Homo sapiens: one gene and its partner. The protein of the gene in region 2 interacts with the protein of the main gene of each other region in a pairwise test. Each region holds a gene or a part of one and is shown on either strand. Other genes may lie near its edges.

Region 1 (4,633 bases), on a different chromosome or scaffold from region 2:
ACACACTCAGCTTCCAGATCCTGCTCTCCCAACCTCCACCAAAACAGGGGAGTGAATTAGCCAGGCGTGGTGGTGGGCACCTGTAGTCCCAGCTACTCGGGAGGCTGAGAGGGGAGAATGGCATGAACCTGGGAGGCGGAGCTTGCAGTGAGCCGAGACCGCGCCACTGTGCTCCAACCTGGGCGACAGAGCGAGACTCCATCTCAAAAACAAAAACAAAAAAAAACAGGGGAGTAGGCACTTCATTTCTCCAGTGCATCCCAGTAGTACCCAGGCCAGCAGCCTGGTTCCTGCAGAGCCCCACCCATTTCACTTGGGGGCAGGAGACAAGCAGGGGGAGGTCTAGGAAAGAGACTCCTTTGCATATATGCTCATGGCCAAGATCAAGAGCTGTTCAGACAAGGTCCTGTTCTCCCTGCTCACCTCAGGTATGAAGAAGAAGTAGCACTTCGAGCCACAGCAGAGAACGAGTTTGTGGCTCTAAAGAAGGTGAGTGAAGCCCAGCTGGCCCTGAGCCCGCCCTGAGTCCCGCCACCCATCCTCTTTGTCCTGCCACATGGCAGCCAGGTCCTCAGAGCCCTCTGAGGAAAGCCGGCCTCACAGCCCCTTCTACCCCACCCAGGATGTGGACTGCGCCTACCTCCGCAAGTCAGACCTGGAGGCCAACGTGGAGGCCCTGATCCAGGAGATTGACTTCCTGAGGCGGCTGTACGAGGAGGTGAGGGGCTCTCAACCATGGTGGGCACAGATCCCCCCATGGGATCCCTGACCCTCTGCCCAGACACCCACAGGCATGAACCAGGCCTGCTGACATATGAACCCAGGCTCACGGCTGGAGGGTTGGCAGGGAGCAAGGAGAGGGAAGGAACAGGGAGGCAAACGGATGGAAAGCCAAAAAGGAACAAATTTAGTAAGGGGCAGGAGAGTGAGCACCCCAGACACCTGTGCCTTGGGAACCTGCCCTGCATCCTTCCCCTGAGCCAGTGGACTGCAGCATAGACCCCACACAGCATCAAACAGAATTGAACCCATTGCTCTGGCCCAGGGCTTTCTCTGGCAGCAATAGCCTTCCTACATGGGGTTGGTCTAGGAGAATGGAAAGAGGCCCCCCATACAGGGTCTGAGCCCCTGGAAAGCATCTGGACCATGCTGGCTGCACATGGGCCTGAATAATTCCAAAAGCAAGCAGTTGAGAAGTGGTTGTGTTTTCCTCTAAAGGGATTTCCTATTTGTGCAGAAAGTTATGTGATTTCATCAGGTTTGTTTCTCTAAACATGAGAAGTTCACTCCCGATGAGCCAAAAGGATGATAGGCATCCAGGGATTAGGAGAAGCCCAGATAAGTGAGTTGTCCTTCCTTTCCCCACCTCCTGCAGGAGATCCGCATTCTCCAATCCCACATCTCAGACACCTCCGTGGTTGTCAAGCTGGACAACAGCCGGGACCTGAACATGGACTGCATCGTTGCCGAGATCAAGGCACAGTATGATGACATTGCCACCCGTAGCCGGGCTGAGGCCGAGTCCTGGTATCGCAGCAAGGTGAGCGGCACAGGACACCTGCCTGCTAGACATGGCAGTGGGAGGGATGTGAGGTATCTAGTAGAAAAGGCTTCTTTGTCTAGGGATTCTGATCCCTAAGGATGGTAAGAGAAAAACCAATAGCTCTCATGTTGGGGTGGCAGGGCAGGACTGCCACGTGTGGTTGCACAGGCCGAGCACTGCACAATCTGTGCAATCATCTGAGCTGTCCTGAATGAATGGGATGTCTCATCCTGAGCCTCATGAACATCTCTGCTTCCTGCAGTGTGAGGAGATGAAGGCCACAGTGATCAGGCACGGGGAGACCCTGCGCCGCACCAAGGAGGAGATCAACGAGCTGAACCGCATGATCCAGAGGCTGACAGCCGAGGTGGAGAATGCCAAGTGCCAGGTACCAGAGCCCGGCCCACCCCTCAGTGTAGGAAGAGACTGGGGTTAGCCCTCGGCAGAGGGATTTGAGTTAGATTCTGGAAAAGTCTTCCCAGTGCAGTCTCATGGGTGACAGAGTAAGATGAGAAATCTACTGAAATATTTCTGATTGTCTTGGCCAAGGTGTGTGTGTGTATCTGTGTGGTGTGTGTGTGTGTGTGTGTGTGTAGTGTAAGTGAGGAGGGAAGGAAGGTTAGGAAGCTGATTGGAGAGATAATATTTTAAGATAGAAGTTGAATGATCCTATTGGAGACTGGCTGGGATTTCAAGAAACTAAACTTCACTTTATCCTCTCCATATTCCCCCTACCTCCCAGAACTCCAAGCTGGAAGCTGCGGTGGCCCAGTCTGAGCAGCAGGGTGAGGCGGCCCTCAGTGATGCCCGCTGCAAGCTGGCCGAGCTGGAGGGCGCCCTGCAGAAGGCCAAGCAAGACATGGCCTGCCTGATCAGGGAGTACCAGGAGGTGATGAACTCCAAGCTAGGCCTGGATATCGAGATCGCCACCTACAGGCGCCTGCTGGAGGGCGAGGAGCAGAGGTGGGTCCAACCCAGCCCTAAGCACTCCACTTGCATAGACCTGCCCACCTTTGATTTTTCCCTATCTCAGTCTCAGTCCCCAGGTGACATTCTTGCCTCTATGGATCCCAGATCCATATCTTCAAGTTGTCTCATTCTCAACTCTTCCAAGATCCATACCCTGCCTGGTTTCTTGGACATCACCTATTCTAGGGCAGGGTTGCTGGCCAAACTCCACCCCTGACCTCGTCTTCCCAAGAGGGCCTTCTCCTTCTGAAAGTTGAGCCTATCTAGACCTGACAGATATGGTTGTTCAGGTTGTTCACTGCACAAAGGCAAATAACAGCTGAGAGACAAATAAGAATTGAAATCCAACCATACTCTACTTGCTAAATAGTGTGACCTGACGTTGCTTCAACTGCCAGAAAGGCAACTTTTTCTAAGCTGCACAAGGGAATAAATGTAGGTCAGAAATAGCCCTGAGATGACCCATTTCAGCACCTAGCGGAAATTCGATGACCTCATTCTGACTTCTTTTATCTTCCCCTTCCTTACTTTTTCCCCACTCAGGCTGTGTGAAGGTGTTGAAGCTGTGAATGTCTGTAAGTATCTTGAGCCCTGAAAAGGAAAATGTAGACTGGGGACAAAGGACTTCTTGACTATGAATATATGCAGAGACTTTGGGAGGAGTGTTTCCAATAATTCCCCCAGTAAAGAGGATAGGTTGGTCATGCAGCAAGACAGACTGAGGTTAGCTCGCAGGAAGAACCTCACAGCCTGAATGTGTTGGGGAGGGGAAAAAATAATAAGATGTCATTGCAAGAAGGGACCTCAGATGTCATTCATAACCTTCACCTTATATAGGTGAGAAAGCTGAGGCCCAGACAGAGGAAAGGACTCCCAAAGTCACAAAGCAGAACCAGGACCAGAACCCCGGTCTGCTGGCTCCCAGGCTAGGGTTCCCTCCTTCAGAATAGAACTGGAGGCTCTTTGCATCCTTCCCTGGATGGTCGACACATCAGACAGACCAAAGGAAGGTGGCTGGATGGGATGGCCATCAGCAGGGGTCTCTTGACCCTGCCCTTGTTCCCACAGGTGTCAGCAGCTCCCGGGGTGGGGTTGTGTGCGGGGATCTCTGCGTGTCGGGCTCCCGGCCGGTGACGGGCAGCGTCTGCAGTGCCCCCTGCAACGGGAACCTGGTGGTGAGCACTGGTTTGTGCAAGCCCTGTGGCCAGCTGAACACCACCTGTGGAGGGGGCTCCTGCGGCCAGGGGAGGCATTAAGTGGCCCAAAAGAGAGCCAGGGGAGCCCCTTCTGCCTGCCAGACGTGCCACTGCCCCACCACCAGCTGAAAACAGCAGCACATCGCTGGCTTTTCCCCTTGTGTTCTGAGAATACACCATCGGCTCATTCCCACCAGCGGCTCCTCCCCACCTTTCATCCCACTGGAAAGGGGCCTGTGGCTGGGGAATAGACCCATTCCTTCCCCTGTCTCAGCCTTCAGCCCCTCCCGGGGAGAAGGGCCTTGCTTCCCTGGAAGAAGCACTGTGAGACTGTTCCCCCTGCCTCTCTGGCCTCTTGTCTCCCCTTTTCCAATAAACTTGGGGACCTGCTTTGTGTGCTGCAATGTCTTGCTTTCTTGGGGTTCCCCACACCCACCAAGTGGTGAGCACCCCAGCCTGATGATATGGCCTGAAGACTAGAGTCGTTCTGGCCTGTTCTCCGCCTGGACACCCGTAGGGCCTTGTCCCCAGATGGTTCTGTCATCTCCTGGCCAGGCAGTGCTGACTGTGCTCACAGCACCTTCTACCTGTCACACCTGTCAGTCTGGATGGCTCTGAAGGGGACCGAGGAGGCCAGAAGTCAGCCGGAAGGCAGTGCATGTGCATGCGCATGTTTATATGTGTGCACGTGTATGCGTGCTTGTGTGTGTGTTTGAGTTTTGCCCCCTTCTTGCATACACGGTCCCCACTTTCTCTTCCTAGCATATCTTCACTCTGCCCCCCAGCCATCCTTCCACGTAGGTACCACAGCAACAACCACCAAAAGTGCCAGCAGCCACCCTTGGGGGCTGCCCTGTGTCAGTCTGGACCCCACCCCATTGCCACATCCTCCTCATGCTGCCCACCAAACAGGGAAAGATGAGAG
Region 2 (7,230 bases):
CACTACATTTCTGTTCTCTCTTGAGTATGTAGGTTAGGATAAATCTATTTTCTATTGACGATACTCCGAATATTTTAAGAGGCTATGCTACATTCCCCACATCTTTCCATCTCTAAGATTAGTATTCCCTTCTCCTTGAATTGCTTATCTATCATTGTTTTCAGTCCCTTCATCTTTCTAGTCATCTTCCTGTAAAGGACACTAATACTTATCAAATTTTTTTCTGAATTTTGATGTCCAAAACAATATAATGCTTCTATTGCCAGGGATAAAATGTCAATCTTAGTAATTTTCTTTATAATGTAATGGGCTACTATTTATTGAATGCTTGCTATATGCTCAGTGCTTAAAATAGCACTGCAAAAAATGATTCTATTATTCCCATTTTGCAGATGAGAAGACTGAACTAGAATAAAACTAGATAACTAGAACAAAGTCAAGAACTTCACTCGACCTTTATTATTTATTTACTGGGTGGGGCAGTAGTTAATAGTAACATGACAACATATAAGCATACCTCTGTAGGTATGCAGGGGCCCAGACTGGAGGAGATATAAGATTAGGCAAAATGTCAAAATCAGCTAAACATTCTCTGGAAAAGTCCCTGTAAATCTAAGAGGAGCCTGGCATATATCATGCTGCACTGTGATTTAGAATGACCTGCCTTAGTCAAACTAGACTTTGTTCAGTCCAAGGGAATCTGTGGAGATCCTGTAGACTGCTCCTGGTTGGAAGGAAGGACCTGAACCATGGGGATTTCCCATCTTCCCTCCTACACTTCAACCAAGCATCTCTGCTTTTCTCTAGCTTTACATAATTACCCCAATCAGAAGTAGACAGAGGTAAAATAAAAATAAAAATAAGTAAGTGTGTTTGAAAGAGAGAAACAGAAAGGGAAAGAGAGAAAAGCCATTAGTCATGAAAAGTAGTCATAAAAAGAATTCTGACTTTGGAATCAGTTTACCTGTGTTTCAGCCCAATAATATATGTGGTAATATACTTCTCAGTGGGTTACTTAGACATTGTCTTTAAACACTCTGAGCTTTAGTTTTTTCACATTTCTTATAGCAGGTACTCAGATTTTTGTTGAACAAATGAGTAAATGAATAATTTTGTATTTTGGCAAAAATAACCTTACGAGGTTGTAGAGAGGATTAATGCTAATATAGGGTTTACTATAGCCTGGTACATAGTAGGTGTTTTGCAAATAAGGATAATAGCTATTATTATTATTGATTCAATGCTGCTTAGATTTAGGTACAGGTGCCCATGTGGCACTTTTATCTAAGTTAGATCGAGATTCTTCATTAAACTTGAAAGCAAATATTAAATGCTCTTAAATATTTGGAACATGCTTATGTCCAGAGGGGCTTTCCCATTACAAGGGAAGATTATAGGAATCTCAGGAGCTTCTTGGTTCTCTACTCTTGGGAGTGTGGCTTGTGAAGTTTGGTGGCGAAAATAGTGGCAACAATGGTGTTGTCTGGAAGAAGCCTTGCCATTCAGCCAGATGTGCCAAAAATCATGTGGCAACTCAGTGGGATCAATTCCTGCAGTCCAAGAGGTGCCCATATTTGCTGTCATTGCTCTTCCTTGGGTTTAAAACACACTACCCAATGACATCCAAATCTACGTATTTAGTACATTTGTCCTCTGGGTAAGAATAAATTATGAACCTACTGCCTATTCTTGAAAGAGAAAAGACAAAAAAGGGTACTATGCTTTTGATCTGAAAACTAATGTCTTTAATCTACCTAAATCATTGCTAGTTAAATACCATTTTCTGGTGAATCACATTTATCTGCTGTAGAGTATAAGTTCTCCAGATTAAGATCTTGTCTTTTCATAGGGTGTATAAAATAATGCACACAGCTTTAGCACTCCTGGTATAACAGATGGCTATCATTTGTAACAAAAGAATAACATTGGAAGCCTTCTGACATGTCCTAGAAGCTTGGTGTGCAAGAAGAATCCCATTACATACATATTGTAATCCCATTACAACATGTTGTAAAGGTATATTCCCCATAGGGAAAGCCCAATAACTAATTCCTTCAAATCTAGAAAACAGACGACTGAGAGTTAATTTTTTTTTTTTTTTGAGATGGAGCTTCACTCTTGTTGCCCAGGCTGGAGTGCAATGGCACAATCTTGGCACACTGCAACCTCTGTCCCCCAGATTCAAGCCATTCTCCTGTCTCAGCCTCCCGAGTAGCTGGAATTACAGGTGCCTGTCACCATGCCCGGCTTTTATTTATTTATTTATTTATTTATTTATTTATTTATTTATTTATTTTGTTATTTTTAGTAGAGACAGGGTTTCACCATGTTGGCCAGGCTGACCTCTAACTCCTGACCTCAGGTGATCCACCTGCCTCAGCCTCCCAAAGTGCTGACATTACAGGCATGAGCCACCGTGCCTGGCCAAGAGTTAATTCTAATTGCATAAAAATTCTTTGCTTTACAAAATAACATTTTTTAAAAAATTTTTTATTTTTTGCTAAAGAGTCTCTTGAAATAGCCAGATCTCTTTTTGGAGAATCCAAAATTGGATTTGCTTTACAAAATGTTTATTAGACTCAACTTTTCAGGAGCAAAGCGAGTGTGAAAAAATGGGACATTGCCTGTCAGGCATCAATGGTAAAGTGTCACTTAGTCACAGCGTAAAAAATAAATAAATAAATAAAAAGGCTCACCATTCCATCCCCTAAGCCCACCAAAGTCAAATTGTCCAAATGTGGCAGGTGGCTATTGCAGGCATCTGGTGCTCTCATTCCAGTCAGGAAGGTGAGGCTAGCATTGGGGTGGGGGCGGGGGGCAGACATCAGTAACTGTATGACCCTAAACACAGAGTCCGAAGAAGGGACCCCCAGATTACAGACAGCCTTTCCTCCACATATCAGACCCTCTTTCTTTACAAATACAGCAAATACAAGCAGATAACTGGGCATCAGTCATTTCTGATGCATTGCAGGAAAGAGCAACAACATACACTGTATCATTCAATTTATCAAGTAAACTACAGGCACTGTGCTAGACTCAAAGATAGAAAAGAAGACAGGGAGCAAAGAAGAAAACGCACGTTTAGTAAGACACCTGAGTGCCTTCAAAGACCATGCAATGTCTTTAGGTACTGTTCCCAGCTAGCTTCTCCAACAGAAAAATGAGCATACTCCATTTCAAAGCTGGATTCTGTAACCAAATGCACTATTCATATTTTTCCAAGGCTCCTAAACCAATAGTTAACTAGTCTCTTCCAAGATTTAGGGAGGCTGTTGAATTCTTTTCTGGAAGTTCTATGTATTTTGCTAAAAGTTGTGCTCCAAACACTTTACCAAGAATTAGGGTCAATGAAGGGGTACTTTGTGCAAGCTACAAATACTTGGAATTTTCATAAGGCAGTTCATTTCTGCCTTCCTGTGAATAATTTCATATTTCTTCCTTGTAAGACTAGGGTTTGTGTGCTCATGAGTGTCTAGATTGTCAGAATAGAAGGAGTGTTTAATACATTGAGTGGGTCTGGGGCCTGGAGATGAAGATGTGAGGGATGCAAGAAGGAGGATCTTGAATCAGATGGAGCGAAAGATAACTTGGAAACTCCAGTGGAGAAAAATGGCTAATTTGGATTGTTTAATTTGTTCAGGTTTGTGTTTTGGGTTCTGTCACACTTATGTTGAGAAACGTCCCTGCCATCTCTCTAATGCACGCAGTTTATGTTCAGAAACGGGCAGCACAGAGAGGAATTAGCGGTGGGGGAAATTTTCATCACCACCGGTGATGTGTGCACCGATGGTAGATGGCTATCCAGAGTGTAAAAATGTGATTCTGGGACCAAAGGGTCAGCTCTAGAACGAAATCAGACAGCTGGAGAACTGAAGATTCAACTCTTCCTAGGCAAGAGAGTGAGAAAGGTGGGTTGCTTGCAGGGTGGAGGTAGGGGTTGCTCCTCCTAGTTCCTGGGCTGGAGAAGGGCAGGGAACTGGGAAGTGTGTGTCAGAGGCTCGCTATGCTAGGACAAGGTGTTGGGGTACTAGGGTGGGTGGGGGCCTGAGGGGTGGCTTGGAGCCCTGGCGGTGGCTGCCTGACGTCACCGGCCTCTCTGGCAATAGGCTGCGAGCTCAGCTCCCTGAAGCGGCGGCGAAGGCGGCGGCGGCGGCGGCGGCGGCGGCAGCAGCGCGGCTCGGTCTCTGGTCCATTCACTCCACGCTTTCTGCAGCCGCCACTGCAGCCGCGCGGCGGGGGCTCCCTCCTTGCAGCCAGCCGGCGGTCCAGGTAAGAGACAAGGTGTGAGTAAAGGCTTCTGATGGCCGGGTGGCCTGACGGCCAGGTGCGAGTGGGGAGGACAGCTCACGCGGCCTGAGCAGCCACCCCTGGCCATAGCTCCAGCCCCCGCCCCTGCCCCCGGCCCCTGCCCTGGCTTGCTTGCGCGCTACCTCGCTACTCCGCAGTGCAACAGTTTGCAGCTGCCTCTTGGGAGCAGCAAGGAGGCTCTCCTGTGCGCTGCGGGTCTACCGGCTCCAGTATGCCGGAAAAGCCTCGGGGCCTTTGGGCTGGGTCTGGGAAGGACAGAAAGAAGGTCCCGTTCCCCAAACTTTGCAGGCGGGAACCCTCCCCTTTCCATTCCAGCTCCTCTAGAAAGAAGCAGGCTACTGCCAAGTTGGGGGCACAGGGAAATGGGGAGGAGGGGGCCGTTTGTGGGAATGTGTCAGCTGAGAAAGATGCTTCAGCTGCTTTTTTTTTTTTTTTTTTTTTTTTTTGGAGAGGGGAGAATACCAGGGAAGAAGGCTGGAGAAGAGATGGAGCGCGTTCCTGCGCGTCAGCCGCGGTCGCGGACAGAGGCAGAGTGGGATGTGGTGCCAGGGGTATCCCCCTGGGAATGGGACCCAAGGGATCTGACGCTGTCCAGGGAGGGCGAGTCTGGACGGGGAGGGAAAGGAAGGGAGGACTGCGTACCCGGAGCCCGCGCGGCGGCCCGGAGTGGGTGCTGGGAAGGGTAGGATCCAGGCGAAGACATCAACCGAGAGGGCGCAGAAAAGAGGAGAGCCGGCGCTCTGGGAAGTAGGGACTTCAACCAAAGCGGCTGCGTGTCTGTTGCAATTATAAAGTTGTGAAGGGCGGAAGGGAGGCTGCCTTATCTGCTGAGTAATCTGCACCTCCGCGGTGCCGGCGCAGACCCCATCCTGTCGAGTGGCATGAGCAGGCTGCTGGTGGCTCTGGTGCACGGCCACGGGCCGGCAGGCTGGGGTCCGCTGACCGAAAATACAGGCAGCGCCCAGCTCAGGCAGTGTGCCCAGAGGGCCGCTTTGCGGTGGTGGTTGATCTTTCCCGACAGCACTCCCCTGGGCAGCGGCCGAGATTCTAACTAAGCTTTGTGTCTTTGCAGCCTGGTGCCTCTGCAAAGGAAAGGGGAGCGTGGAGACGTGTTCGAGGTGGTATCGGCGAGGATCTCTCGGGCGCCGCTCACTCCTTGGTCGCCTTGCTTGCCAGCAGTTGCTCCCTTAGTCCTTGGCTCGCTCGCACACCCCCTCCCGCTACAGGGAGCAGTTTTGGGTGGCGTGGGCTCCGTCCTCTTCTTGGCTGGTAGGAACGGTGTGCCCAAGAGGGGAAGCCTAGTGGGCCTGGCCCCTCCCAGCCCCGCGCCAATGAGTGCCAGGGCGCCGAAGGAGCTGAGGCTGGCGTTGCCGCCGTGTCTCCTCAACCGGACCTTTGCTTCCCCCAACGCCAGCGGCAGCGGCAACACGGGTGCCCGCGGCCCAGGCGCAGTAGGCAGCGGCACCTGCATCACGCAGGTGGGACAGCAGCTCTTCCAGTCCTTCTCCTCCACGCTGGTGCTGATTGTCCTGGTTACCCTCATCTTCTGCCTCATCGTGCTGTCCCTCTCCACTTTCCACATCCACAAGCGTAGGATGAAGAAGCGGAAGATGCAGAGGGCTCAGGAGGAATATGAGCGGGATCACTGCAGCGGCAGCCGCGGTGGCGGGGGGCTGCCCCGACCTGGCAGGCAGGCCCCAACCCACGCAAAGGAAACCCGGCTGGAGAGGCAGCCCCGGGACTCTCCCTTCTGCGCCCCTTCCAACGCCTCGTCGTTGTCCTCTTCGTCCCCTGGCCTCCCGTGCCAGGGTCCCTGTGCTCCTCCGCCTCCACCGCCAGCCTCCAGTCCCCAAGGAGCACACGCAGCTTCCTCCTGTTTGGACACAGCTGGCGAGGGCCTTTTGCAAACGGTGGTACTGTCCTGATCGTCTAGCCCCTCTCGTTCCCCGTCCTCGTTTCCAGCATCTTTGCCACCCTTGCTTTTTTCCTTCTTCCTTCCTTTTCCATTTTCCTCTGGCCCCTCTTTCCTCTTCCTGGTTTCCTTACCTGCCCTCCCCTTACTCTTGTTTCTCCTCCGCCGAGGCACTGTGCGGTATTTGTAAATATTGGGCGAGGAAAGTCTCGGAAGAAGAAATAACGCTGATAATAATACTTTATTAATATTTATAGTAATTATTATAATACTAATAACACAATCCAAGCGCATGACAAATCACATAATTTCTAACTGTCAATGGAGGATGCATCTTCCCATTCCACCCCGCGCTCCCCTCAATTAGGAGGAGAAACCGCACAAGCTACCAAATATATAAAAGGCATTGATTCCCGGAGCAAAGGGAGGGGAGGGGGCCCGGTAATGTACATAGCTGTCAAGTTAAGATTTAGTTTCCTTCCTTCCCCTCTGACCCCTAAGCTTTCACTTTTCCTTTAGCTTCCCTTTCCTCCCCATTCCCACCCTCAGCCGGGCTCAGGCAATAGTATATTATAAAGAAAATGTCTACATTAAGCACCAGGACTGCAAGAGGCCATAGAGAATAGTCCCCGGAAAGTGTTTATGACAGGTACCCCTCGCCAGTCCGCCCATTTCTCACCCTTTGGTTAACCATTACATTTTCCAGGACAGAGCATTTAATTTACTTTTTAAAATGACCCTCGCTGGCCGAGCATAAGTACGTTAAAATCTTTAAATGAGTTTTTTTTAAAAAGCTAACGCTTTCATTCCCTGCCCCGCCCCCACCCGTACACCTTTGACTTGTGACATTTTCAGGATTTACAAAGGATCTGGGAGCTGTCCAGCCAGGTCTGGTGCTGAAGTCGCCTCACCGTTCTGATTACTTCCTCTAGTTGTGAAGGCAGAGGAGGGGCTGTTTTGGAAAGTGACTATTCTGGCTTTTGGTTGGGTTCTTTCTTCTTTTTCTA

Evidence for each region. The genes of interacting proteins can lie anywhere in the genome.
Region 1: the proteins of C11orf87 (region 2) and KRT83 interact in binary tests that used the Homo sapiens proteins (3 or more experiments, as listed by UniProt).

The regions. Positions count from the first base shown.
Region 1 is NC_000012.12:52,313,766-52,318,398, reverse strand, and holds the end of KRT83 (keratin, type II cuticular Hb3), read left to right. Parts: intron 1-428; coding exon 429-489; intron 490-622; coding exon 623-718; intron 719-1,375; coding exon 1,376-1,540; intron 1,541-1,805; coding exon 1,806-1,931; intron 1,932-2,285; coding exon 2,286-2,506; intron 2,507-3,055; coding exon 3,056-3,087; intron 3,088-3,580; coding exon 3,581-3,768; 3' UTR 3,769-4,098; downstream 4,099-4,633.
Region 2 is NC_000011.10:109,417,992-109,425,221, forward strand, and holds the start of C11orf87 (uncharacterized protein C11orf87 precursor), read left to right. Parts: upstream 1-4,198; 5' UTR 4,199-4,272; intron 4,273-4,446; exon of another isoform or gene 4,447-4,576; intron 4,577-4,787; exon of another isoform or gene 4,788-4,876; coding exon of another isoform or gene 4,877-5,058; intron 5,059-5,383; coding exon of another isoform or gene 5,384-5,642; coding exon 5,643-6,236; 3' UTR 6,237-7,230.